Homo sapiens: one gene and its partners. The protein of the gene in region 3 interacts with the protein of the main gene of each other region in a pairwise test. Each region holds a gene or a part of one and is shown on either strand. Other genes may lie near its edges.

Region 1 (7,027 bases), on a different chromosome or scaffold from region 3:
AGCCTTTCATCCACCATCAAGGTATTAAAGCCACATAGATCTACCTGGAAGTTTCATGTCACCCTCTTTATTTGTGTGTTATTATAATGTGAGCCACATGGCCTAGTTAAGGGCAGCAGAAAGGAATGATCATTGATAATATGCCCCGAGTAGTGGCATGATTTGCGAGAGAAATAGGGGAACTGGTGAATGTTTTCTATTGGTTCAAATGTTGAGTGCATACCTGTGGCATAGTTTCATTGATAGGTGTTGGCAAAGGAGCATGGAGCATAAGGCTGTAGTATTCACAGTAAGCTTTTCAAAAACTTAAGTTTCAAATGCAAATCTAAAGGATGTCTCTGCTCTTCCTAAGCCTTCTGGTAGATAGTACTAGAAATTCCTAAGTGAATGCTTTATAGGATATTTTATTATTGATTATTGATAACAATTGTGGCAAAATATGGTGTTGTTGATAGAAGTATCGAAGAAGTCCATAGAACTAGCATAATTTCTTCTGACCAACCACCTCACTGCAGTATTATTGTGTTGGCTTGGATGCCTCCAGTTTCAGTGATTAGGACTCACAGGCTGCAACAAAGACAGGCCATTCCACAGTGACACCTCTGCCAGGGCTTTCTCTCTAATCCAAAATGCAACTGGGCAACTACCTCTGGACATGGGTAGAGTTGTTTGAAAAGGAGACAGAATGAAATGTAAAATGTAAGACCTAAAGGAATATGAGAAAGCTACTTCTCACACCAAATTTCTACTGATGAAGATTTGTGGAAGGAAGTAATAGGGGGCCCTGAGGGAATATATGTTTATAAATGAAGTAGAGCATTACAATATAACGGCAGTGGTAGAAGTGCCTGAGGTTGTATTTCGTCCTAAAATGATATAAGTCCTATGCTAAAAGAATGACCTGAGAAAGATGCATTCCTGGGAAACTTCTAATTGAAAGAGATAAGCCATTAGATAAAGTCATTTGATAAACATAAAGGAATAAAGCCTAGTTAAAACCCCAGCTAGATATGTAAATGTGAATATGTCAAGAAACAGCCTAGTTGGTGTGCTTCGTAGATGATAGAGGAAACAGACTTTATTAAAGACTGGCTCAGGTTTAGATGTGGCACCATCTCAAACATGGGCTGTGACCACACATGGCAGGGATCGTGTCAGAAGTAACGTGCACTGCCGATGGGTCATATGTGAGAAGGAGAAACTGGTGATCTGTTTTCCACCAGGATTATAAGGCTGTATCAAGGTAAACAAAAACCTGTGCTTTTAAAAATCAAACTCTTTGCGGAACTTGTTTTCAACTGTGTATTGTTTCCCTTCTGTGCTAATTCATGTAAATAATGAAATAAAATGTCGTCATACTCTCCTTGAGAATATCAGGTCAGCAATAAATGTGTTGGGCTCTGGTCTGAGCACCTTAGAAGCAGAAGTTGGTTTCCTGACTTCACTGCACAAGGCAATGCTTGATCAGTTGCTTTGAGGCTTCGAAGCAGGCTGTTTCTAGATCCCTCTCTGGACATTTTTCTTCACTGTTAATGCTTCTCTCATCAACCTTTTAATTATTTTTATCTCTTTAATTACTGCAGGCGAGTTTATACCGAGGTGGCTACAGCCGATTTGCCCCCTACTGAAGTGACGTGAGACCCCTGCAAATGGGACAGCCCCCCAGTTCATGAGGCCTGGCTATTGCAATATTTACTAGTAGAGGAACTCTATAGCAAGATGAAGAGGAAAAACAAACAAACAAACAAAAAAAAACACAAAAAAAGAAAGAATACTTTTTTATACCTCACTATGTTCTTTGAATATGTATTTTTCCTTTAAATTTCTGCCTTTAATTCTTTTGTTCCAAAGATTGTGCATTTTTTTCTTTTTTTTTTTAAACTGTGGTAAAAAAAAAAAAAATAATGCATTTCCATGTCTGTATGTCCGTGCTTAGCTTATTCTATCAATCACGGAAGAGGCAGTCAAGGAGGAAGGAGAGACATTAGGAGCCGATAAATGCATCTGATCAGAAATCAGCAGACAGAATTACCAAAGTGTATCTGGTGCTGAATGACTGGGGGACAAGCAGAAGTGGAAGAGATCTTTCTGCAACAGGATATTCTTCTAGTCTTCTGAGTTTCTGGTCTTTGACAGGCAATTCTGGTTGGCTGTGGCTGGAATCCACATGCTGATAGATAGGAATTTGTGCTTACAAAGCAGGAGAATTAAAAAGACGCTTTCCTCTCCTCTTCCCTCCTGTCTTCTCCGTTCTTTTTACAATCATCTTACACGCACAGCCTGAGACAGCTGGCATAGTTTTTGGAATTATAGTATTGATATTTCCAAACGTGCTCTCAGACAGTGGATAATAAACACCTCATTAGGAAACCGATCTCAGAATGAACTCTGGAGTATGAAAAAGATCATTTCTTTTTGTTCCTGTAACCTAGCATTCCTTCTAGGCTTCTTCTCCTTTAATTGAACCACAGCTTAGCTCATGTATTCTTTTATTAACACCCTGCTCTCATGTCCATAAGATTCAGGAATTTAGGACCCAGGGACAGAAAAGTGAATAAGCCAGTGACCAGATTTCCCCCAGATGTCTTGAGGATTAGAAGTACAAATTGTTGACAGCCATTAAAGAGGGTGAGGAAGGGAAAAGGAATATTAGAAGATCTGGTATTTCTTACTTTTTTCTTGCCTCAGAAAGTACAAAGTTTAAAAAATAGAATAAAGAATCTGCTGGGGAAAGATAGAGTACCAGGTCCTAGGTCAGTAGTCCCTGGAAGTTTTGGTGATGAGGACATGGAAGGGCAGGCAGAGGCACTTTGTACTTGCTCCAAAGCCATAGGAATTTTCATCTTCCAGAGCCTTTATGAGTCACTTCTCTATCCACAGTCTTGAGCCTGTGGCTATCCCGCTGAGCTTCTCACTGTCCTCCAAAAACACCCCGCTGAGCACCCGGACCACTTTGTACACATTAACACTACAGGACATAAAATGCAGAGGCCCTGAGATTGCTGCCCTCCCATATTGGAAGGAGGGTCTGCGATGGCAAGGGTCTTCTATATCACCAGAAAGAGTCGCGCAGTGAGTCACTGCCGTTGCCATCTGGCTGTAATTTTCTATGTTATCAAGGTAGGAGGGAGTGTTTCTCTTCTAGCTGTTAGATAGAACTGATAAAAGCAAGTGTCCTACAGCATTTCCCAAATGAAGGCATTAGGAAATAGAAAAGCACGGTCTTTTTGGCTCCCTGGTCTAGTCACATTGGTACTAGGGTGACCTTTCACCCAAGGGACAGCTGCTAAAGGGAGTAATTCAGAGACATGGAGCTTCTGGTTATGGGTTTGTTTTGGGTTTGTTTTTAACTCCTGCCTCCACACATGTTCTTGACTGATAACTGACTCATGTCCCTGAATTAAAATGACTGACCTATGACAGCATCAAGCATTCTTTGTAAGCAGAGTGATATATCTGAGAGGGCGTTGACCTGTTGTGTAGAATACATATCCTTTCCCCCTTCAGAATCCTGTCTCGCCTCGTAACTGGGAGAGAGGCTGTGCCTGAAACTAGGGGCGATGTCAAGGAAGCTAGAGGCCTCGATGCAATTATTACTGACTCTGGGGAGGAAGACAGAGAATAAGGGGACACCAACTGCCCAGTCCACTGGCCATTTTTAAGGGTCCCCCCACCCCAAGCCAAAGTTTGGTTTGTTGCTGTTAAGACAATTTTTGTTGTATGTATATAAATATTTTAGTTAGAGGAGCGGGGAATGGGATGCGGGCTTTCACAGTTCTAGGGAATGGGGGCAGGGAGGATTTTGCTTTTGCTTTTGCTTTGAGGGAGAACTTTAGCTGACTAAAAAAACAGAAGTTTGGGGTCATGATCACAAAGGGGCCATTCCCAAAAGATGGCAAGCCACGTATTCAGTGGAGACTAGGCCAAATTCTAAATGGTTTTATCCATAGCAGGGGAGAATAGGAGAATGAGTTTAAGAGTTTTTCTCTTCTTTTTTCCTAGAAAGAGGTAAGGATAATGGGAAAGGTAGAGAAGGCGGCTCCCACAGACCTTTTAAGAGAGGCAGAATCTTGAGCTTGAGGCACCTTGAGTGCATCTCAGTTCAGCTGGTTCTGGCTGAGGCCTCCAAAGGCAAGCTCTGTGCTTTCCAGTGGTTTCTGCTGCATTTCCAGGGATGGTGTTTAACACCGCTTCCTCCAGCTCCCTTTTCTAAGAAAGAATAAATGGAGTTCTGCTTTTTATGAAAGGGTCTTTGGTTTTCAGTGTCAACACTGAGAATTGGGGCTCTTGCAAGCATCTGGATTTCACAGTATCAACCTCCCCGTCACCTTTTGAACTTTGAGACTCCGTACGGTCAACTTCACCAGAGGCAGGTTGCTCGAAGCAGCACTGCTTGTCTGTTCCTGACTCTGGTTCTCACTGTATTAAAAAAGAGAGTCAGAGGAGTCTGGCATTTCGTGAGTTTGTTAGAGGATGCTGGCTGATAATTCCAGAAAACTTACTGATGCTAAATCACAGTACATGCATGATTCTTTTTCAGCTTTACTATAGTTCATGACCTGGACTTTCTGTACTCTTGGAAGCTGGGCTCCTTAAAGGAGGCCTCTAGTGAACACCTTTATCTCCATGTCCCTCTTAGAGCCCAGAGAGCTGCCCATAGGCATTTTCCAGAATTCCTCATGTCACCTAGTTCAATTTCCATTAACTCAGATCAGCCATTGTGATTCACCATTTGTCAGGCTCTCAGGTTTAACAAAACCTACTATCACCATCATCCTTCAACAGCCACAGTCTGAATTGAGCCAACATTTTTTTTTCTTTGAGAAAGAAGTGGACTGGGGCACAACTTTTAGTCTGAGGGGAGCTAGTGGAAATCTAGACAATAGAAGTCATCGATAGCAGCTTTTCCTCAAATGTGTGACTCCTCAGGGGCTAAACTGCTCTTAGCTTAGAATTATGCTTTACTAGAGATCTAGCAGATAAGTGGGTTAATCACTACCATCCTGTAACTAGTTATATAGCTTCCAGACATGAGGGAGACATCAAACAGGGATGGAAGCAACCCCAAGGATATGCAAGAAGGGCATGATGAACCCCCTTCCCTCTGGCAGGAGAACAAGGCCAACCAAGGGACAGACTGGAAAGCACTTAGATGTTTAAGGAGGAGAAAGGGGAAGCTTTGACCAGTCCTTGCCTTTTGCCAAGTTCAGCCAGTTCTCCGCTGCTTGCAACCTCTAGCGCAGTAACATTTGCAGAATTGCAGATTTTCCCCCAGATACTAGGAGGAAAGGGACTTTGGGGGGTGGGGAAGGGGTCGTGGTGTTTTAAAAGCATAAGTTACCTGTTTGCACTGTTTTAAGATAGGAAAAAAAAATAGTGGGCAAGGTGAACATCAGACGTAAATTTGTGTGTTTTTATTTTGTCATGCTCTTGAAAATGTTTGACCATTTGTAGTATACACAGTGAAACTTGATTCTCTGTTGCATAAAACACTATATTTTTTTGGAAATGTTACTGTCCAAAAGCCTCTTCCCTCCCTTTCCTTTTCCTATGTACTTCCTTCATACTTGCTTTACTGATCAGCCAGGCAATAGCCATCCAAGAGCTAGAGCATGAAACAGGGCCCTTTCCAAGTAGGCTCTGGGTGTCCTAAGCCAGCGTGTGCCCTCTGGTTTAGTGAGTGTAATAGAGTCCCTGGCACCTTTCTTTGCAAATGAGGCTAACAGACCAGACTGCAGCAAGTTATCAGATTCCTCAATCAGATGCACTAGGAGTGAGGAGCCCAGGGATGGAGGGGGTTCCTGAAGTATTGCAGTTGGCTGTAGTAGCTGAGTTCTTTTCCATGTTACCGAAACTGTAGCCAGTTACAGTTTACTCAGGAAAACGGTAGATCAATTCAGCCATGGTAGTGCTGGTTGGCAGGGATTGGTAACGGAGAGAACTGCTCATCAGCCAAAACTCAAGCCTTGCCTTTTAGGAGGCCACCAGCAGAGGGACTTGGTCCTCCTTGTCTGGTACTTGTGTACATGCCGGTGACCTGAGGACTCCACTCACACTGGCGAGCAAAAAGGGAGCAGTGATTCTCTTTTCTCTCCCCACCCCCTGCCCTTTGTTACCAACACCAGTTTCCCAGGGGGTACATGAGTTTCTGAATTTTTAAAAAATGTTTTTGGTTTGGTTTTTCTGGGGACTGATAAGTGCTTTAAGCAATGTCCATACCCCGTCAAGACTCCCAGCTTAGTCATTTTCTTGTATTTTTCTGTTCACAGTATTTGTGTGTGTGCTTGTTTTGGCAGCTCATTTTGGCTGTATTATATATTGAGTGATGAATTGATCCTCTTTTTTCCCTAAGGGATATGAATTGTTTTTCTTGTGTTATATTCTGCTTGTGAATAGCTGGAGCAAACCTGGGGCTGACACGCGTAAGCTAGGGCTGCAAAGCGAGAAGAGAGCCGGTGGAGTGTACTTGTCCCTGACAGGCTGACCTACCTGAGTCTCTGAGCTTTTCAGTCCAAATCTTTGCAAGGCTCAAAATGCCACAGAACCTCTCCTCTTCTCCCCACTCCCCATGGCAGGGACCGGACCATCCCTACATGCAACATGCTGTTCCTCCAGCCCCTCCCATTGCCATGGCAAAACAGGTACCTTTGGGGCATGGGGGCATTACATGGGATGCTTGTGTAATCGACCACCTAGCCTTCTCTCTCCCCTCCCGTCCTCCCCCAGAATCACTTCCTAGGACACCCGAGCTGCTTGCCCAGGGTCCTGTTTCCCTGCTAACTCCAGAGAAGCATCCCAGGGCTTTGTGACAGTCTCTAATTCCCTTCCCTTCTCGTTAAGAATCATATTGTATAGTAGCTTTCAGACCATACAGTATTCATTGGGTTACTCCTATTATTATCAAGTAGCTGGAATTGTGAAGGTCGGAGTAGTTAGATCTTTAGCTTTTATTCCTTATTTTTTTGTATTACTCTCCATGTGTATAAATTATTGATCATGTTGCTGGCTTTTATAAACTCTAAGCGAA
Region 2 (7,027 bases), on a different chromosome or scaffold from region 3:
AAACCTGCCTTCACAGAGCTTACTTTCTAGGATATAGTTCCTTCAAAAAAATAATTTAAAATGTTCTTAAATTCAAATCATTAAAATAAAATGAAAAAAAGCTTTGTTTATATACTATAAAAACTCATTAGAATAATTAACTTATCTTGCTATGAGAGATAAGCCTATCACTTCAGAACTGCTTAAGGGCAGCAAACATTCTTATTGGTACAAGGGGAAAATTCTTTGACTAGCAAAATCTTTCAGGTCTTAATTAAAAAAACATTTAAAACATTTATGTCTTGACCATAAAGCTGGTCGAGACAATTATGGTCACAACATGTTCCCTGTGTGATAATACCATCTGAGTTTTATTAGAACTATATCATATACTTAACACAAAGATAAGTTATTCCCCAAAAGTTAAAAAAAAAAAATTCTACACCAAAATCGAAATAACCACCATGCATTTTCTGGTTATGGAATAAAAATTCAACATTAAAAGAATAATCTCATAGTTAAAAACACACTTGGTCCTTCCTCTTACATTTAGTTTTATCTTTATTAAATGTCATTTCATAATTTAATTGAACATAAATTCCTAAATTATTTATAATAAATGAACATACCTTCAAGGGATAAAATTGCTTCATTGCCATTTTAATACTTATCAAGTTCTCATGTATCAAGTGTAATAAAAAACTACAAATAAGTAAACACCACAGAATGAGGAGGAGAGATGCATGTAACATCTAAAATAGAATTCATCAATGCTTACCTCCCCATGTACTTGCTACCTGAGAAGCAGTTGACATAGGATGTACAGATGGGTGAAAAGTTGGCTGCTGCAAATCAAGCAGATCATTGGGCAGCTTTGATGTGCTAGAAAGATATTTTGGAAACGTGTTTTATTTACCAGAAAAACTTTGCTACTTTAGTGTCACCTTCTCCACCCACCACAGATAAAAACATTAAAAACAAGGGAGAAAAGTCTCATTAATATAAATCTCAAAAGAGGAACAGTTTCTTCATATGACAGCATATTTCTAAGGAGGCTTGGAAAAATAATCTAATATCATATCTTAAGTTTATATAAGATTCAAAGAACAGTAGCTCTTCTGAAAAGGATGAATGTCTTCCCCTAGAAAAAACTAATTTCCCTATTAAAATGAACCTAAACAACAAGATTCTAAAATACAAAATATCACAGCAATTTTAATATTTTTAATAAAACTCTTTTCTTACTTTTAATATTCACAGAACTTGAATCACATTTGCAATACACTACACAGTAAAATACTCATTAACCTCACTTCTAGTGCCTCAGTGTCCAAACTATGTATCAATGATACAGGGAAAAAATTTTACATGCATTTATGAATAGAGCCACCCCATCACACAACACACTATTTACATGATATATTTCTTTCTTCTTTTTTTTGAGACAGAGTCTCGCTCTGTCGCCCAGGATGGAGTGCAGCGGCGTGATCTTGGCTCACTGTAACCTCTGCCTCCCAGGTTCAAATGATTCTCCTGCCTTAGCCTCCCAAGCAGCTGGGACTACAGGTGCGCAGCACCGCATCCGGCTAATTTTTGTATTTTTAATAGAGACAGGGTTTCACCATGTTGGCCAGCCTGGTCTCAAACTCTTGACCTCAGGTGATACGCCTGCCTCGGCCTCCCAGAGTGCTGGGATTACAGGCGTGAGCCACTGTGCTCAGCCTCTTTTTTTGTTGTTGTTTTGCTTTTTTTGAGACAAGAGTCTCACTCTGTTGTCCAGGCTGGAGTGCAGTGATGTGATCTTGGCTCAATGCAACCTCCACCTCCTGGGTTCCAGTGACTGGCATGCCTTAGCCTCCCAAGAAGCTGGGATTAAAGGTGCATGCCACCATGCTTGGCTAATTTTTGTCCTTTAGTAGAGACAGGGTTTCACCACACTGCCCAGGCTGGCCTCGAACTCCTGACCTCAGATGATCCACCCACCTGAGCCTCCCAAAGTGCTGGGATTACAGGCGGGAGGCACCATGCCTGGCTTACATGATATATTTCTACCTCAAGACTTCTATGTAATTTTTTTTATTTGAGACAGAGTCTCGCTCCGTCGCCCAGGCTGGAGTGCAGTGGAGCGATCCTGGCTCACTGCAAGCTCCGCCTCCCGGGTTCATGCCATTCTTCTACCTCAGCCTGCCAAGTAGCTGGGACTACAGGCGCCTGCCACCACGCCCGGCTAATTTTTTATATTTTTAGTAGAGATGGGCTTTCACCGTGTTAGCCAGGATGGTCTCGATCTCCTGACCTCATGATGCGCCCACCTCAGCCTCCCAAAATGCTGGGATTACAGGCATGAGCCACCATGCCCGGCCGACTTCTATGTGATTTTAATGAACAACTCAAAACATGACCCCAGAGTGTCTAAGAATTCAAACACAGTACAGATAATTTTTTTAAGAGAAGGGGTCTGGAGGCTGGGTGTAGTGGCTCATGCCTGTAATCCCAGCACTTTGGGAGGCTGAGGCGTGCGGACTGCTTGAGTTCAAAAGTTCAAGATCAGCTTGGGCAAAATGGCGAAAAAATACGAAAAATAGTTGGGCATTGCGGAGTGCGCCTGTAGTCCCAGCTACTCGGGAAGCTAAGGCAGAGGGAATGCTTGAGCCCAGGAGGTTGAGGCTGCAGTGAGCCATGGCTGTGCCACTGCACTCCAGCCTGGGTGACAGAGTAAGTCACTGTCTCAAAAGAGAGAGAGAGATTGAGAGAGAAACAGACAAACAGACCAAGAGATGTTGCCCAGGCTAGCTTGTACGGCTGGGCTCAGGCCTTCCTCCTGCCTCAACCTCCTGAGTAGCTGGGACAACAGGCACACGCCACCACACCCAGCTCCTAATTTTTAACTTATATATTCTCCAAAATAGAATGTTTTTCTTTTTAAATGGATATACAATAATTGTACATATTTATGGGATACATATGATATTGTGATACATGCATACCATGTAATTATCAGGACATCTATCACACCTCAAACATTCATCATTTCTCTGTGTTGAGAACATTCTAAATCTTCTAGCTACTTTGATATAGGTAATACAATTGTTTTTAATTAGTAATTCTACTGTGCTATCAAACACTAGAACTTATTCCTTCTAACTGTATTTTTATAAAAAAGTTTTGAAGACATGTCTTTTAGATGTACAATAGTTGTGTAGATAGTAGATATAAACGCATTTAGTGCTTTGGGGAACATATAGAATATACAATAATAATTCTGTAAATGGGCTGTAAGATTTGCCCTTAATTACTATTAAAAAGGTGAAAATTTTTAGTATGTGACATAAAACATAGTGAAATTAGTTCTTTATCCAATAATTTGTTTCAGCCTCGAACAATGAACATTCTTTTCACTTCTTTCTCCTAGGACAGACTTCTTTTCAAGATCTCCATGTTGAGAACTTGCCCCTTAATGGGGTCAATGTTACTTAACTGGGGATTAAAGAAGGTAGCATACATGAGCAAACAAATCATAAAGCTGAAAGAAAAAAAAGAACTAAATTCAACAAACACCTACTAAGATTTCAGGGAGCAGGTAGCAACTGAGCATGCATACAGCAAGCAGTTCACGTAGTAAAACTTACACTGAGCTATTAGGCTCAGCTATTAGGAGTCAGTAGGCAGGCAGATGAGCTTTTAAGGGTGAGTTAATAAACAGCAACAACAAAGTGAAAGGAAAAAACTCACCACTCTCTATGGAACATTTAACATGTGCTAATAATGCACTGTGCTAAAACCTAGTCACCTGGGAGCATCTTAAAAACAAAAATTCTTGGGCCCCAGGCCCCACCTACTGAATCAAAACTCTAGGATTGGGACTCAGATATCTGTAGTTTAATAAACTCTCCAAATGCTTCTGATGTTAAAGTTGAGAACCACAGTCTCATCTGAAAACAAGGTTTCTCAAAAAAAGTTAAGAACTAACAGAGCCAGGATTCAAACCAGAATCTGACTTTTAAAACTACTTTAAGCCACTCTGAGGTTCAGAAAATGCCAATTGTTTTACTTTACCTGGCAATATTATATTTCCATGTTAAGTAGCTTAAATTAGACAACAAGATTATTAAAGTTAGTCTGGTAGGCTTCAATACCAAGAAACCTGGCAACTAAACTCTGTCACTGTGTTCCAGATTACAGAGTTTAAAACCAGGAAACAGATATGACAGACGTTTAATATCTAATGAAATGGTATTTTGAAATATATATCATATCCATATGTCAAAGAGCTATAAAGGGTCTTGAACCATTAGATGCCTCATAAATGTGTTTAATCATAATTTTTACACAATGAAAAGTTGGCCCAGAGATAACAGCTATATTCCTATTAGTATAAATCAGTGATTTAACTATCTTCCATTTCGTAAATACGTAAAATATAAACTCATCACTTTATCTTTAGGTATTATACCAATATCACCATTTATCGCCACCTCTTTGTGTGAATAGATTATAAAAGCATAAATAAAAGTAAACCTGAAAAGTTCTGCAAAATTTCTATTAGAAGTCTTTGAACCTACATATTCAAAGGTAACCTTAACTTCTACTCCTACCTGTTAGAAGAACTAGGGGTAGAAAATATGTCAATGGCTGGTGCAGTCATTATCCCTCCTGCTGAGGTGGATACAGGAGAGGCTGCAGTTGTTAAAGAGGTATGAGGTTTCTTTGCAAGTTCTTTTAGGCGCTGTTCCTGTTAAGAAAGGGAACTACCATAAGGATTCCAGAAACCAGATTTCTTTGTACAGCCTCTGAAAAAAGCATTTTCTAATTTGTTCTGATAGCAGATATTCTGTTTTACCTAATTCTATGTCAGGACGAAAAGTTAGACTGAGTTTCAGCCCATTAGGTAGCTATACATTTAAGACTCTAAGTCTGTGCAGAGGCCCCATTTACCTAATGAACACCTGTACTCATTTTTCGAAATAAGGAGAATGCACAAACTTACCTTTAAAGCTTTCAAACGTGCCTGTTCTTCCTCTAATGCTGCCTGCTTTTCCCTTTCATCCACTTTGGTCAGAGATAGACCAGTGCTTGCCAGGGAAGACACTGCATTGGAAAGTGTAGTTGCCCTAGGATAATTGAACAGAGATAATTTGGCTTTTTGCTAAACACTTCACATTACACCCAGGTCATGAAATGGTCTGGCAACCTTGCCATGGATAGGCACTATAATTATAAACTTAACTTCTGGATTCAAATCCAGTACTTCAGATGAAATATTCTACCTAGTGATCTACAGGATTAAAGCAATTAGAAAAATCTTGACTTAATATACACTCACTGCTTTCAGAGTAAGTGTTTGACTTTGGAAAGGGTTCACAACAGAGTGGGGCACATTGCCTCTTCCAAGCCCCAAGAGAGGAAACCAGTGCAATTGGGAAAGAGCCCACATAATCCCACAAAATCCCTGATGGGAAAAAGTGTTGAGTTTATCACAGGGAAAACCCTCTGCTAATTTACAGCCTACGTTTCGGCAGTGCCACAGGAACACCAAAACATGCATACCAGTAACACGTAACGTAAGTCTAGGTATGTTTCACCTATAACAACATCCCCAGAGGACTTCAGGTTCCTTCAAAAGAAGACTGGTTTCAATCTAGTCATCAGGCCATTTGGCATCTTTCTATGTGCTGCCCTTTTGCCAAACCAGAATTTCCTTTTTAATATACATGTACAATGTATCATTTTTCACTGGCAAGGCACCTCCTTTCCCTTTTATCAAAAACGTATCCACACTATAAACCTCAACATTAACTTTCCAAATGTTAACTCTAGGCTAAGTAAAACAAGTGGTAAAGAATTCTAACCTGAAGAACTACCTTGAGCTTTATTAATTTTCCTTTTACCACACACCAAACATCATTAGTTTCTACTCTTAAGCACGTAAAGTGGTAAAAACTACCTTTTAAATTTTATGTAATATTAGTATTATAAATAAGCCAATAAAAAGGTACAATTCAGAAGACAAAGGAAGAATAACATAGTTGTGACAGAAATGCAAGAAAACCAATAAATTTTATGATAAACATTTCAGGTAAATTGGTGCACCTGAACTACGTGGCTCTTTTTTTCGTTATTCTCTCAAATAAATGAGACTTATTGTTTTGACTGCTACTTCGAAAATCTTACTAGAAAATTCAAAGTACAAATCTAGGATTAAAAATGAGTACTAAAATCCAATAACGGCATTTCCCTTTGGAAATTATTTAAATTTTATTACTAAAAGAAAGATCAAAAGTTCTGAAACAACCAGAAAGTCTAAAAAGAACCAAAGGAAGGTTCTCACTATACAAATTCTTTCTTCATGCTGTTTTAAAAAAAGGTTCATAAGAAAACATGAGAATAACTCAAGTAATTTCTTAACCCAATACAAAAATCATGTTACCAGACTGATATGAAATGATTTCTGTTACTTTCAATTTGCTAGGTTAAATGGTCTTAGTCTGAGGAATTAGCTTAAAACATAATAAAGTGATTAAAATATAAAATATCAATAATCAACCCCATGAACTGGCATTAGGCAGAGATGATGCAATTTGATGTCAGATATTCTAGGTTTGAGTCCCAGCATTGCTACTACATACTTCACAGGGCTATTGTGAGGATTGAGCAAATTAATACGAAAGTATCTTGCAATTATAGGCCTGGCACGGTGGTTCATGCCTGTAATCCCAGCACTTTGGGAGGCTGAGGTGTGCAGATCACTTGAGTTCAGGGGTTCGAGACCAGCCTGCTCAACATGGTGAAACCCTGTCTCTACTAAAAATACAAAAATTAGCCGGCCGTGGTGGCATGCATCTGTAGTCCCACCCTTGGGAGGCTGAGGTGGGAGAATCGCTTGAACCCAGGAGGTGGAAGTTGCAAGTGAGTTGAGATTGTGCCACTGCACTCCAGCCTGGGCAATAGAGTGAGACTCTGCCTCGGGGGAAGAAAAAAAAAATGTATCTTATAACTACAAAGCACCACATAAAACAATGCATTAGCATCTTTAGGAGAAATTTTGACA
Region 3 (7,027 bases):
TATTTTATTATTGCATAATGTGGGAGACCTTCCCTACCCCAGGAAAGCTGGAGAGTGAAGGCTTCCCAGCAAAGGGCAAACAGGTTCCTGATCGACATCCAACCTAATAAGGTTCAGCTCCTCAACTGTAGTGTACACTTTTGCCCATCTGGAAGGTACTATAGCTTCAGTGTGGTTTAGTAAACTTAGCCTAGGAGGCCAAGATGTCTCCCTAAAACTTAGTCTCTGTCCTATTTACTTTGTTTATAAGACTGTGACCTAACTTCCCATGGCCAATTCAATCGACTAGGTTATCTTTACTCCAATGGACCCAGGCCTTTTCCCAGTCAATCCATGTCCAACCCTTCATCTCCAGCGTGATCACTCAACTCTTCAACATGCCTGCTTGCTGCAGGTTTAAACCACACCACCATCCTGTGCTTCCCCCTAAATCGCCCATGATGCCCGCAGGTAAAAATAAAACTAAACCCCACTTGAGGTGCTATTTCAGCCAAACTTTAAACCCTCTCCGAACTCCAGAATCCACCTAACTGGAGCTGGACGAACTTCACTGGGATGCTGGCATGGGCCCTAATGTGGTTCCCTTCATTTAGTTTTTAAAACAGGATACAAGATACCACAAAGGAAAGAAGTTAATACAACAGAAGACACCACTAGTAGAAACCTGCTTGTTTCTCCCTCAAGATAGTCAGACATTTGGAGCCAGAGGGCTCCCAACAGCACTGAAGCCTTATCCCTTTGGATTTACCAGCCCACCAGCAGCATTTCATACCATCCCTATCGAACATGACTTCGCTATAAAATAACATGGCCTAACACAGGTAAGAATGAACCGGACGCCTACACTTAATCTACATGGCCAAAGACATGGAAGGATAGGGAGCTGTAGAGGACAGCAGGCAGGACAGTGAGCGGACAGCAGCAGTGGCAAAGCAGCGCAGGGCAAAGCCCTTGGTGTTATGACCAACTGGGACCAAGAATATAGAAGGACCAGCCCAGATTGGCTGGGGGCCCTCCCTCAGGTACAAGTACTCAGCTCTGAACTCCCAGAGCCCCTTCCCCCCATGCCACCTCTTCCTCATGTATACTAATCTTGATAGGAATGATTCAAGACTTGGCTTATTATCCATCCATGACTGGGTTCCCCTATTCCCAAATTGGTATACACATTTTTATACAGCGCCAGACAGTCAGCAGTCCTCCTTTCTATTCCTAAGAGCTGGAAATGTCCTACTGCTGACAAGGGACAGGCTCTGGCCCTTGTCAACTGCTCATTCTTAAAAAGTTGGCAACTTCCCACTAAAATACTCGCTAAAAACTGCTCTCATGTCTCCTGCAAACTCAGGAAATTCCTATAAGGAAGAATGGACACACCACAGGTTAGTCATATTTTTCATGCCTGGAGGAAAAGACTAAACTAGAGGTTAAAGGCAAGGGGGAGGCCACAGCTCTGACCGAGATTTAGAGCACAGAGATTCTTTTCCTGGGGACCATATTTTATGACAGATACCTTTGCAGCTCAGCAAAATCAAGTATTAATATGTTATATATGCATGGAACGATATTGTGGTATTACAGGAACTGCTGGTATTGCTTCACCAGCAAGAGACAGCAACAGAAAGGTCAGGGCCCAACTTGCCAGGGTCCTCAAGAATTTCTCTTTCCAGAATTCAGTGGAAGTTACCAGGTTGGAAAGTCACAAGTAGCCCAAGTGGAAGGTGATTTGATCTAAACTAATTGGTCTGTATCTGGTTAGACATAGGTTTGCCCCATAAGGAGAAAGCTCAGCTTGTGTCCTTGCAGACACTGCTTGAGCATCTACTGTGTACATGTCACTAAATTCAGTTGATGAGCCTTCCTATGAGGAAGGACGCTTGTGAGAAACCCATGCAAACAATGAACTCTAGGAATGAGTTGCTCATGAAACAGCCAGAGATGAGGCCTTCTCCCAAGGCCTTCTCATTTGAGGGGATTCCTCAAGACTCAACCCCACAGGCCCCCACTGTAGGAAACAAGCCAGAGAAAGCAGCATTCAGAGAATGGGGGACAGAGAAGGGGAAAGATATGATCCCAAATGCAGTACAAAGTTGGCGTCTGGTTCTGACACAAACCAGATACTGAAGCACTCACGGTCAGGTCAGCAACCTCCTTTGATGGACCCCCAAAAGCTGACTGACCAGGCAAACTGCTTTCAAGGAATGAAAGAGTGGAGGGTAGGGCTTGTAGCAAACAAGCCAGTTTCAGTCACTCTGTTCCCCCAGGAGAACAACCTTTAGCACCTGAACACTAAGAATGACTCCATTCTCAGAACTTCCCCTCCCCCCAGGAGGTAGGTAAGATTATTTATCCCCATTTGGCAGGTGGGGAGGAAGTGAAAGAGCCAGAGGTCACGAGACTTGCCGAAAGTCCTTGACAGAGCAGAGATCAGACCTCAGAGGTTTGGACTCCTGATGCCAGGCCAGGTCTCGGCCAATCCAAGTATACCTTATAAAGGACATGCCAGGATCATAGCCTGGGAGAAGTCTAACCAGAGAGCTGCGTGGACAATACCCTGAGTTGCCTTCAAGAGTCTAAAGACCCCCAAAAAACAAACAAAAAAACTTACCCACCTGAAAGCTAGTGGGGGAGCCTAATTCCCAATACCCAGTGGAACCCCACGGTCTGAGCTGATGCTAAAAGTTGTGAAGAAAATGTGGGATTAAGACATTGGTGGGGGGTAGGGGGGGTGCCAATGCAACCAAGATTGAAAATACTTTTTGCAGAGGAATATACCAACACAAAATGACATCTATTCAGGTACTGAAATGTTATCAAGACTATCCTAGAATCTTAGAGCTGGTGGTGGGAGGGGATGGCTTGGAGGCACCAGAATGCTGGGAGAAGCAGTGGAATAAGACAGGAGGGGCATATGGGACATGTGAAAATGCCATGATGGGCACTGCCCAGCCACGCATTCGCCCTGGCCCAGGGCATAGTTCCCTTCTTGTTTCTTCACCAAGCTGTTTGGCAGTGGAAGTGGAGGGGACATGATTTTGAGATTTTAAAAATAGAGATTATAGCTGAAGGGGAAACCAGAGAGACCCCCTACCCACCAAAAACTAGAGGTCTTGGTCAGAGTGGACAAAACCAACTTTGCAGACAAGGAAAGGCAGTGCAGCTACAAATGAGGCCCAGGTCACGACACCATGCAGCGGTCAGCGCAGCAGGAGGGTGGGGGTGGCGCAGGCACTTGGGCACAACACAGACAAAGGTGGGGGGTCAGTGCCTGGGAAAAAGGGTCTACTAGTTCTAAAGTCACCATTACCAGCAAGATTCTGTGAGATTTCAAAGTGGGTCTGGCATGCTGAGATGGAGGAGCTTTGTTAGGTGAGCTACCTTTCCAGAGGGCCTGCCTAGAACCCAGTCAGCCTGGCTATCAAGTCTTTCTCCCAAAGTCCCCTGACTGAGTCCCTGGCAAGGTAGTACTTCACTCTGAACCCTGAAGGGGCTCTCCCTCCGGGCCCCCGTGCTGCTAGAAGCCTTGTAGGCAGAATGGTGAGGAGAGATGGGGAAGGGCTATGAAGCAGAGGATCAAGCAGAGTCCTGCAGATGAGAGTGCTCCTCCCCCACACACCCAGCCATAGACATCTGGAACAAAATCACCCTTTAAAGTGCGCATCTCTCACAAGAAGGGTTCTGGGTGGGAACCCTCTTATTTCCAACCTTGGGGCCTCCTGCCCTTCTACCACAAAAAAGAAAAAAAACTTCTGACAGTTTAACTGCTACTATAAGCTGTGGATCATCATTTTTGGCTCTTTCTTTACTCCCTCCCTCTGCCATCTGCTCCCAAAGCCTGGACTTTCTCTTGCAGGAGCTAGGGATGGGGAGGAAAGAACAGGGAGGCCCTGATTTTGGAATGTTTCTTCTCCTGTGTGCACCCCCTTCCTTCCTTGCCCCAGGCCTGCTGCTCCCCATCACAACACCCTCTGGGGTTGTCCTGAAAGGATGCCATGGGGTAATGAACAACAGATCCTGCCTTGGGAGGCTGACTTCATGCCTCCCCTTTCCCCCAAATCTCACTGCCAAGAAAGCCATTCCCTGCTCGGCGTGTGCAAATCCTCTGCCTGCTCACGGCGGCGAGGCGAGGCTCTGGGGTAAAGCCCCAGTCCTGGTCTGGGGAAGAGGTTCATTTTCCCGCATTGGAACGCCCTTCAATGGACAGCTTTACCTCCTGTGGAATGAAAGAGGGACGGAGCAGCGCAGCCCGTGCCTCCTCCCCTTGCATGCTGTATCTTTGGAAGCTCGGGGCTGGCCAGCAGGCCTGAGCACCGGACTCAGGCTGGGAAGGCTCTACCACACGGGAGCCCTCTCCTGCCGGCTGGCTCTTCCCCTCACTGTCACATAGCTCTCTGGATCCCAAGACCGTCCTCTCAGGCCTTTCTCGGGGGGGACCCAGCTGGCTTGGGGGAGCACAGCTGGCCTGAGAAACTGAGTTACTGTTCAAGCTCTGTAAACTGATAGAGATGCAGACATCTCCCACCTGTAGCCGATGGCAGGGCAGAGAGAAGAGTTGTGTCGTCCGCCCAGGGCTGCAAGAGGACCAACCCTGGCCATATACAAAGAAGGGGTGCTCGGGGGGCACTTCGATGCTCACTTTGCTCTGCTGCTCACCAACCACAAAATGCAGCATGACAAATCCAGGCCATTGGCTCTCCTGAATGTCCACGACCGTGCTAGAGTCAATCTTCAGCCCCCCGCTCACTTCGGCACTGCGCACAAAATCCTGGGTCTGGAGGTCCTCCACCCGCTTCAGCTCTCCCGTAGCCAGCTGGATGATGGCGCCTTTCATGAAATGGGAAGGCAAGTGAGAGGAGGTAATGGGGGGCGGCGTTGGCTCCTTGTCTGGGAAGGTGGCTCTGGCCTGCACGTCCAGACTTGATGCTACCAGGATCTCCGAGCCCACAGGCAGCAGGCCTGAGTCAGTTCCAGTGGGCACCAGGTTGCCATTGGCTACAACCATTGCTTTGGGTAAAGGTCTATGTTTTACTGGTTCCTGATGGGACTGAGGGTAGAACCCACGGGCCTGACTTTTCTCTGCCAGCTCTGCAGGGTTCCTGGCTGACCCTCGCCCCTCACCCTGATGGTCGGGGGTATGATGGGATAGGTTGAGGGGGCTGGGTTCCTCCTTCCTCTGAGCTGCCACCACACGATAGTCCTGAGAAGCTAAAGCGCCAACCACCCGCTGGACCTCAAGGTCAGTGTCCGGGGTCCCCCGGTGTGCTGGTGCTGCTACCTCTACCCGTGGAGTCTGAGAACCTGAAAACAACTGTCCATCCACCACACATTCTACCACTGGCACCAGTCCCTGGCCTTCACCCTTGCTGTTGGGGGAGTCAAGGGCTTCACTTTCCCGTCTTACTAAATTTCGCTCTCGTGGTCTCTGTCCTCCATTTGCAGCAGCTGCTTCCAGAGCAGACTGGCTCTCCTGAGGGGTAAGAACTGGGCTGGCACCTGCTGGAGGGGTTTCATGCAAAGTATACCCAGCAGGTAGCCTGGACATCTGATAATAAATGGGCATCCGACCTGGAGCAAGGTCCAGCGGCTGAGTACTTGAATGATGTGGCAATTGCCCAGATGGGGAGGTGGCAGAGGGAGCTTTGTTAAATGAGTGGGCCGGGGAGGGAGCCTGTGGGGGAGGAGTGGCTCCTTCAGCCAGAAGTGAGGCATATGGCACAAAGTGTGGAAGGTGAGAGGTGGCAAGGTTGGCAGAAGGAGATAGGAGGGGACTCGGTAGGAAATTAGGTGGCACAGCATAGGGAAGGCTATAAGGAGACCCAATGAACTGCAGCGAGGTGGATGGGAGCTGAGCATAGTGGAGTGGAGGATAGTGGATGCCTGGATGTTGAATTAGTGAAGACGCTACATTAAACGTTGGGGGCAAGGGACTCATATTCACCACAGATGGGAGTCCAGTTGGTGAAAAGGTGGCAGGCGGCACAGCCACCTTATACAGCATGCCATACTGGTCCACTGTCAGACCGGTGATGGCCTCAGCTCCATCACCCCCCAGGCTGACTCTGGCTCCTGCCTGGCTCTGCCCAGCCACCACAACCCCTCGGGACCATTCAGAAGCATCACTGGAGGGTGTGTGGTTAGTGGAGCAGCTGGTAGTTCTCCCCATATCCTCGCTGGTCACGGGGAGGTCTCGTTTCTTTGGTGGAAGGCATTCCTGACTCCTTTCATGAACAGGTTTCATATTGCTTTGTGGTGTTCCTGGAGCCTGGAAGGAGTCGACTTGCTCCCTGGGGCATCAGAAGGGGCTTCTCTGTAGCTTCCCTGTACCCCTCTCTGCTTCTGGCTGGGGCGCCCACATCTATTAGGGAACAAATCAGAGGCAAAGAAAAGTAACCTAGGGATGAGCCAAGACAAAGGAAATAGAAAGAACTGTGCCATGGAGGAAGATGTAACAAAGGGGACTGTTAGAAAATAAGGAGGAAAGAGAAAGGGGCAGACAAGGAGGCTACCCCCAACTCATCCAGCCTGGGACATGAGAGAAACAGTCGGGGAAATCACAAGGCACAAAGAGCTACAGGGACACGCATTCACCAATGCACAAATAACCTGTGGGCTCCACAAGCCCAGGGAGACCAACAGCTTCACGGTTAGTCATGTGTCTCATAAGCACCTTGTCTCTTTTCTGCCTTCTTCCCAAAGGGGGCTTTGAACACATGGTCTTTCCTGCTGGCTCTTTTGCTTTTTTTTTTTTTTTTTTTTTTTTTTAAAACACATGGAGTTTTGCTCTTGTTGCCCTGGCCACAGTACATGGTGCAATCTCAGCTCACCGCAACCTCGCCTCCCGGGTTCAAGCAATTCTCCTGCCTCAGCCTCCCAAGCAGCTGGGACTACAGGCATGCACCACCACGCCTGGCTAACTTTGTATTTTTAGTAGAGATGGGGTTTCACCATGTTGGCCAGGCTAGTCTCGAACGCCTGCCCTTGGGTGATCCGCCCACCTCAGCCTCCCAAAGTGCTGGGATTACGGGTGTGA
Region 4 (7,027 bases), on a different chromosome or scaffold from region 3:
CCCTCTCTCACCTTTGTTTTCCTTCTATGTCATTTATTTGTTGAAGAAACTGGATCATTTTTCCTGTTGTGGAATTCCATATTCTGGGTTTGGCTGATTATATGTTTCTCTGTCTCTCTTACTTTCCATGAACTGGTGGTTAGACATAAAGACTTTCAGAACTGATTGGTAAGATATACATTTATTTCCATTGGATTGGAAGTCATAATATCTGATTATCCCCTTTTTTTTTTTTGGTCATGTTGAGATTGATTATAGTAGTTCAGCTGTTGTAAGTCTATTCCACCCATAAAGTTCCTCAGCAAACTTTAACCTAATGGTTTTAATAGTCATTGATGATGTTTAAATCCATTTCATTAAATGCTGCAAAATGGTGATATTCTAATTTTTTAAATTCTAACTTCTGCATTCGTTAGCTGGAGTTTTTTCTACAAAGAGGGACTTTGCCATATCAGCTATTTGCTTCAATTGTAATATGTAATGAAAAGGCAGGATTAGGTGCTTGTTTACTCATTTGCAGAATAATAACATTCCTTGAAAGTGACCAGTGGGGTTTTAGGGTTTTTGTTTTGTTTGCTTTCTTTTCATTTTGTTTTATTATGAGATCATGGTTTTTGTTGTGGTTGTTGTTATTGTTGTTGTTTTGTATTGGTTATATTTTAGTCCACTCAGTCCACTAATATCACTTAGTTTTTATTACGGAAAAATTTCAAACACTCTCAAGTAGACAGAGTTGCACCATACAGTGAAACCTCTTATGTTCATTCTCTAACGTCAACAGTGATCTTAACATTCAACCAATCTTATCTTCATCTATACCTGTACTCCAGCCCCACTTTCTTCTGCCCTTATTTTAGTTTGATGCATATCCAATCAGTGTTCAAATTTAAAATGGTCTAAAATATTTTAAAAATCAGATTGCTTGAATCAAAATTCAGATCTACCACTTAGTACAGTTTATATTGTGATATGTCCTTGAGTATAATCTATGGACACCCCCTCAACTCTTGCAATTTATTTAAGTAAGTTGAAACATTTAGTCACTAGAGATTTCCACGTACTAGATTTTGCTGATTTCATTTATTTGGTATAGTTTAATGTATTTTCTGTAAATTGGTAGAGTCAAAAAGAAATAGAGCGTGGGCCTAGTTGGAAAGACAGATTTCATTCAGTACTATTGCAATAGGGGAAAATAGAACCAAGTTCCATTTCAGAATACAACAAAGACACTTGGGGATGAAGCAGAGTGAGAGGGTCAATGGATGGAAACTTTCTAAAAGGAGACATCAAAGGTAGAAGGTTTCTTTCTGACCTGACTTAGGATTCCTGCTAAAGGCAGGCCAAGGTGATCATAGATCCAGAGTGGGAGATAGTTTAGGAGGATTCTTACTATATATAACTGAGCTAAACAGACTGATGACGGGGCTCAAGGACAAATACTAGTTGATTGCTCAGAGCAGCCTGCTTAAAAGTATGGTCAAGGAGAGAATCTTTAGTGTAGAATGGTGATCAGATTTAAGTTTGTTGTCCTTTGGTTCTTGTTTTCTTTCTGAAAAGCAAGACCTGCTTCAAAGGTGGTGGTGTGCTCTCTTGCACTAGGAGGTATATTATGTCTTGTATTCAGGCTATTTGCATTTCAGATTACACAGTTTTATGTAACTGCTTTAACTTTGTGTTTGTACTGAATATTAGTTTCTTGATGGCAGAGAACATATTTCACTTTCAGAATGTTTTTCTGCTTACATGGATTTATTTTCAAGAAATTTCATACAATACTTTATTTAGAAGAAAGCAGAATTTTCTGAAATCACAGTATGCAGAGGCATTTACCATCAACTCTGACAAACATCCTTCTGGTCCCTTTTCTATGCATGTATTCTGTGGAATTGGATGCAAACACATATTAAAAATATATACATTTGCCTAATGGAACCACAGCATACAGAGTATTTTATAGTCTGCTTTTCCATTCAGTGATATTCCAGGAAAATATTTTCTTATCAGTGTGTTTAGATACACATCCTTTCAATAGGTCATCATTTAAATTTCTACTGTCTAACATTATTTTAAAAGTAAGTTTTTCTCTAATAATCAGCACCACATTAAACATACTGTGTAGCTTTCACTTTAAAATTATTTTTATGGACATTTGATATCATTAGCTTGACATTATTAATAACAGTTACCTTGACTTTTTGATATCATCTGTACTGTCTTGGAAAGTGAAAATATTTGTCAAACTGTTAAATGATAAGAAAGAATAATTATACACTGCCAAGCAGAATTTCCTTCTTTTGCTCCCTCCCCACCTTCTGCTCCAATCACATAAATAAGAGCTGTTTTTTCTTTGCAGTATGCATTGCCTCAGGAACAAAGGTGGCTCTGTTTAATCGACTACGATCCCAGACAGTTAGTACCAGATACTTGCATGTAGAAGGAGGTAATTTTCATGCCAGTTCACAGCAGTGGGGAGCCTTTTTTATTCATCTCTGTGAGTATAAAAGTGTGCATTTAATGTTTTTAGTGTGAAATTGTTAAAATCTTTTGATGAGATACATGGATATATTAAGTTTTGTCATTTGCCTAATCATAAAATAAATTTAAAAAGATGACAATTTGATTTATTTTTCCACCTACTGCAGTGGATGATGATGAATCAGAAGGAGAAGAATTCACAGTCCGAGATGGCTACATCCATTATGGACAAACAGTCAAACTTGTGTGCTCAGTTACTGGCATGGCACTCCCAAGATTGGTATGGCTCTACTTTTGCTTTAGTGATAATGTGAAGTAAAAATTAATTTCTTAAACAGGAAAATCACAACATTCAAATGGAAAAACACACCTCAGTTTTATGCTTTTTAATTTTAAAAGGTATGTTAGTAATCAGTGCTGTTTATAATTGACAGTTATGCTCTACCTTATTTCAGAAATGCTTTAAGGTAATAGCCAGTTTTTACAAGTACATTCTTAATGATTTTTTCTTAAATGATTTCCAATATATTTTGGTGGCAATTTCCTTTTTGGCTGTTTATCTGAAGATGTTCAGTAGAGGGCACTATAAATTACATTTCTTTTCTTTACTAATGCGGATAAACCGTATTCATTTTTTTGTGGTACCTGCCATATCCCAATGTAGGACCAAGTTTGCAAACAGAAGACATTCTTATTTCTTTTGAAATATAAGCGTAATTTTTGTTAGCTTACTCTCTCACAAGAAGATAGATTTATTAAAACTGAAATAAAATTGGTATTTCTAACTGGGAGCAGGGCATAGGATTTAGGGCTTTTGTTCAATAGAAGACATTGAAACTCGGCCACGCATGGTGACTCACACCTGCAATCCCAGCACTTCAACAGGTGAAGGCAGGAGAAGGAGAAGTGACTAGCCCTGGCATCACTTGAGCTCAGGAGTTCGAGACTAGTCCTGGCAACATGGTCAGACCGTCTTTACCACTGACCCCGCCCCCCCAAAAAAAAAATTAGCCAGGCATGGTGGTGCACACCTGTAGTCTCAAGCTTAAGTGGGAGGATCACTTGAGCTCGGGAGGTCAAGGCTGCAATGAGCGGTGATCGTACCACTGGACTTTAGCCTGGGCAACAGAATGAGATCCTATCTCAACAACCACAGAAAAGGAGATCTTGAAATTGTAAAAACTACTTTTGTTAGTAAAATGAAAACAAAAGTCCTCTATAGTGCCACCACCCTCCCAATTTTCCCTCTCCTTTTCTCAAACAATATAATTTACTTATATTCAAGATGAAGGGGATTTATGAGTAAGTTTGATTCAAGGTCAGACTGAAGAGGTTGGGTGAGTAGAAGAACATTTAGTATTAATGTTCCTAAACATGCCTCCTATTTATCTTTTTGGTGCAATATTCCACTGGCTTATATTTTCTGGGGTCATTTCAGCAGAGGCTGGTTTGATCTACAGTTTTCTAAGCCAGTGATTCATTTCTTTGTTACTGTTTTTTTTTTTTACCCTCTGTCATGATTGTACAAGGTGATTTTATTTCCCATGTCAATGCAATAAGCTAGAAGACATGAAGTATAGTAATAGTAATCTGTAAAGCTTTGCAGCTGAGACAAATTATAATAAAAAGGGTAACGTTAGGGAATGAAGGGCATGAAAAACAGAGCAGGAGACAGAAGCAAGCAAAAAATCTGAATCAGCATTTATTCATTTTTTTTCTCTTCTCATTCATTTCCTCTGTTCCAAGGATGATGTTCATTTGCTTTGGTGTTAAATGCTTGTACTGCAGAAGCACAACTTAGGAGGATGATTCTGATCACCAATAGTTTATAATACAAACCACTTAGAAGACAGACCCAAATTTAAAACAATGTTTTCATTTACAGTTGTTTGTAAAGTACCAGTAGCCTGCCTTGCTTGAAAGTCATTAATTGAGGTTTTTACACTCAAAACTGTATGGCTTTATATAAAAATGTTGCAATGAAAAATTAACTTATTAGAAAAAGTTGCAGTACCATTATTAAGACGCTGATACATAAATCTTTCCAGGGGTTTCATGACAGGAATTCTGACATGCAAAGTCGAGTGCCTCTCGTCATTGAGTTTACATTTTGATAGAGTGATAAGCCAAATACCCATGTAAAGGATTTATGTAGTGATGAAAAAACAAAACAAGATAATAAAGGGATAGAGAATTGGAGGAGCGCTTAGAGAGGTCAGGGAAGTCTTTTTGAAGTCGCAGTATTTGAAGAGAGCCCAGAATGAAGTCAAAGAACCGGTAATTGAGTGAGGAGCATTTCAGGCAAACAGAACAAGTACAGAACTGAAGGCAGGGGATGTATGATGACTAGTAAAGAAACCAGTGGAGCTGGAGCGGAGGGAGGAGAGGTCAAGTGGCAGGAACTGAATCTGTAAGGTTAGCACTAAGCAAGACCTTGTAGGATCCCTCTCTGTATCTAGGGTAAGGACTTCATATTATCTCTGCATGTTAGAAGGCCACTGGAGGATTTTAAACGGGGCACGATGGCCTATTTTTGTTTAGAAGTATATGTGTGGCTGCTGTGTGGAGAAGAGAGCATAGCAATGCGGCCGTGGAAGCAGAGAGACAGGTGCTTGGATTGTTGTCATAATTGAGGCAAGAGTTGATGCTATCTTAGACCCAGGATCATAGTATTAAGGTGGTGAGGGGTGACTGATTTGTTGGAAAGTGGACCTGACAGAATTTGCTGGCAGATTGGATGGTTGGGTGTGAGAGAAAGCAAGGCATCAAGGGTGACTCTTAAGGTTTTTGGATTGAGTGAATGCTAGTGCCATTTATTGACCTAGATGAGTTGGGGAAGGATCAAGTTTAGGAGGAAATCCAAAAATCTGTTTTCGATATGCTAAGCTTGAGGTGCCTGTTAGACATCGTAAGTGGAAATGTTGAATAGGTAGTTAAGTGTACATACAAGTTGAATGCAGGAGAGAAGTCTGGAGATAATAAATTTGGGAGTTGTCAACCTTTAAATTTTTAAACAGTATAGATTATAAAGAGAGGAAAAGAGGGCTGAGAACTCAGCTCTGGGCATTTTAAAGGTCAGTTGGAGCAGTTGTGGTCCTGAAAGCAAAATGTGTTGAGAGCTTCTGAGAAAATGAAGTAAAATGAGGACAGAAAAGTGCCGTGAGATGCATCTGTCTGGAAATCCTTGGTGGCTTTGAAAAGCAGTTGTAGTGGCGTCTTTGAGATAAAAGGTTGGAGAGATTGCAGGAGATTGGACAGTGAGGAAGAGGCGTTTGCAGAAAAACAGGTAGTGAGAGGGAGGGACAGGAGCATGTAGTCAGTGTTTTCTTTACTTTTGATTTTGAGATGAGAGATAGTTATGTTTGTATGTTGTTGGAAGTGATCAATAGAAAAGGAAACAGAGTAAAAGTTCTGTGTCAAATTTTGCTCTTCATCATGATCATCTACTTAGCCATTACCTTCTAGGTGTCAAGTGTCATATAGGGTTTGATAGTATTATCTTTCAGATATTCATGTGTTTTGTAGACTAGTTGCGTTATAAGCTTTAGAGATCAGTTGGACAGGCAGCCAGCCCTGGGATCAGGACATATTCTGGTCCTTCAGCTACTAAACTGGTAATTTTGAGCAATTTGTCTGACCTTTCTAAGCCCATTTTGTAATCTGTAAAATGAGTTTGATTTTGTTATGTTTTTAAATACGTAAGTTTTGGATAATAGATATAAGACGTTTGCACTGACAGTAGCCTTCTAGAGATTTTTCCCTTTGATGTTGGAGTATTTGTCATTTTATGCATATTATTGGAAAATATCATTAGAACTTGCTGTTCAAAATATGGTCTGTAGGCCAGCAGCATTAACATCAACTGGGATTTTGTTAGAAATGCAGAATATCAGGCCCCACAAGAGTCCTGCTAGATCAGAACCTGTGTTTTTCACAAGAACCCCAGCTCATTTATGTGCACATTAATGTTTGAAAAACACTGATCTAGAAAACAAGTGCCTGCCTGCCTGATTTTTTTTTTTTAGATGTTCAGGGAAGAGGGTAACAGTTTCTACATTCTGACATGCTTGCAATCTAAAAGTGTTTTTTATTCCTAGTCTTTTTGTTTGTGAATGTTTTTATATATGTAGGCATAGGACAAATAACTGTGATGTATTATTATGCAGTATATAGCTTCTATGTACTTTTGATGTTTTACACAAGGAAAATCCTTTCCATGTGTGGATGACCTTTTATTTCTTAATTGTTAAATATAGATAATTAGGAAAGTTGATAAGCAGACCGCATTATTGGATGCAGATGATCCTGTGTCACAACTCCATAAATGTGCATTTTACCTTAAGGATACAGAAAGAATGTATTTGTGCCTTTCTCAAGAAAGAATAATTCAATTTCAGGTATGTTTTTAAATTACTGGTGAAATCTAAAATGTACAAACTGTGAGGTTAGCAGCTTGCAAAAATATGAAATTTTCATTTGCTGTTAATTATATACAAATACATGAAGCTATACACAGATATTTATCTCAGGTATGAGCATCCTTAACACACAA

The links.
Region 1: the proteins of ATXN1L (region 3) and RBFOX2 interact in binary tests that used the Homo sapiens proteins (3 or more experiments, as listed by UniProt).
Region 2: the proteins of ATXN1L (region 3) and PICALM interact in binary tests that used the Homo sapiens proteins (3 or more experiments, as listed by UniProt).
Region 4: the proteins of ATXN1L (region 3) and RBPJ interact in binary tests that used the Homo sapiens proteins (3 or more experiments, as listed by UniProt).

The regions. Positions count from the first base shown.
Region 1 is NC_000022.11:35,738,806-35,745,832, reverse strand, and holds part of RBFOX2 (RNA binding protein fox-1 homolog 2), read left to right. Parts: intron 1-1,583; coding exon 1,584-1,628; coding exon of another isoform or gene 1,629-1,638; 3' UTR 1,639-7,027. UniProt on the Homo sapiens protein: RNA-binding protein that regulates alternative splicing events by binding to 5'-UGCAUGU-3' elements. Prevents binding of U2AF2 to the 3'-splice site.
Region 2 is NC_000011.10:85,996,069-86,003,095, forward strand, and holds part of PICALM (phosphatidylinositol-binding clathrin assembly protein), read right to left. Parts: intron 5,091-7,027; coding exon 4,967-5,090; intron 4,712-4,966; coding exon 4,575-4,711; intron 862-4,574; coding exon 758-861; intron 1-757. UniProt on the Homo sapiens protein: Cytoplasmic adapter protein that plays a critical role in clathrin-mediated endocytosis which is important in processes such as internalization of cell receptors, synaptic transmission or removal of apoptotic cells.
Region 3 is NC_000016.10:71,848,949-71,855,975, reverse strand, and holds part of ATXN1L (ataxin-1-like), read right to left. Parts: intron 6,353-7,027; 5' UTR 6,236-6,352; coding exon 4,166-6,235; 3' UTR 1-4,165. UniProt on the Homo sapiens protein: Chromatin-binding factor that repress Notch signaling in the absence of Notch intracellular domain by acting as a CBF1 corepressor. Binds to the HEY promoter and might assist, along with NCOR2, RBPJ-mediated repression.
Region 4 is NC_000004.12:26,421,989-26,429,015, forward strand, and holds part of RBPJ (recombining binding protein suppressor of hairless), read left to right. Parts: intron 1-2,353; coding exon 2,354-2,491; intron 2,492-2,642; coding exon 2,643-2,755; intron 2,756-6,731; coding exon 6,732-6,872; intron 6,873-7,027. UniProt on the Homo sapiens protein: Transcriptional regulator that plays a central role in Notch signaling, a signaling pathway involved in cell-cell communication that regulates a broad spectrum of cell-fate determinations.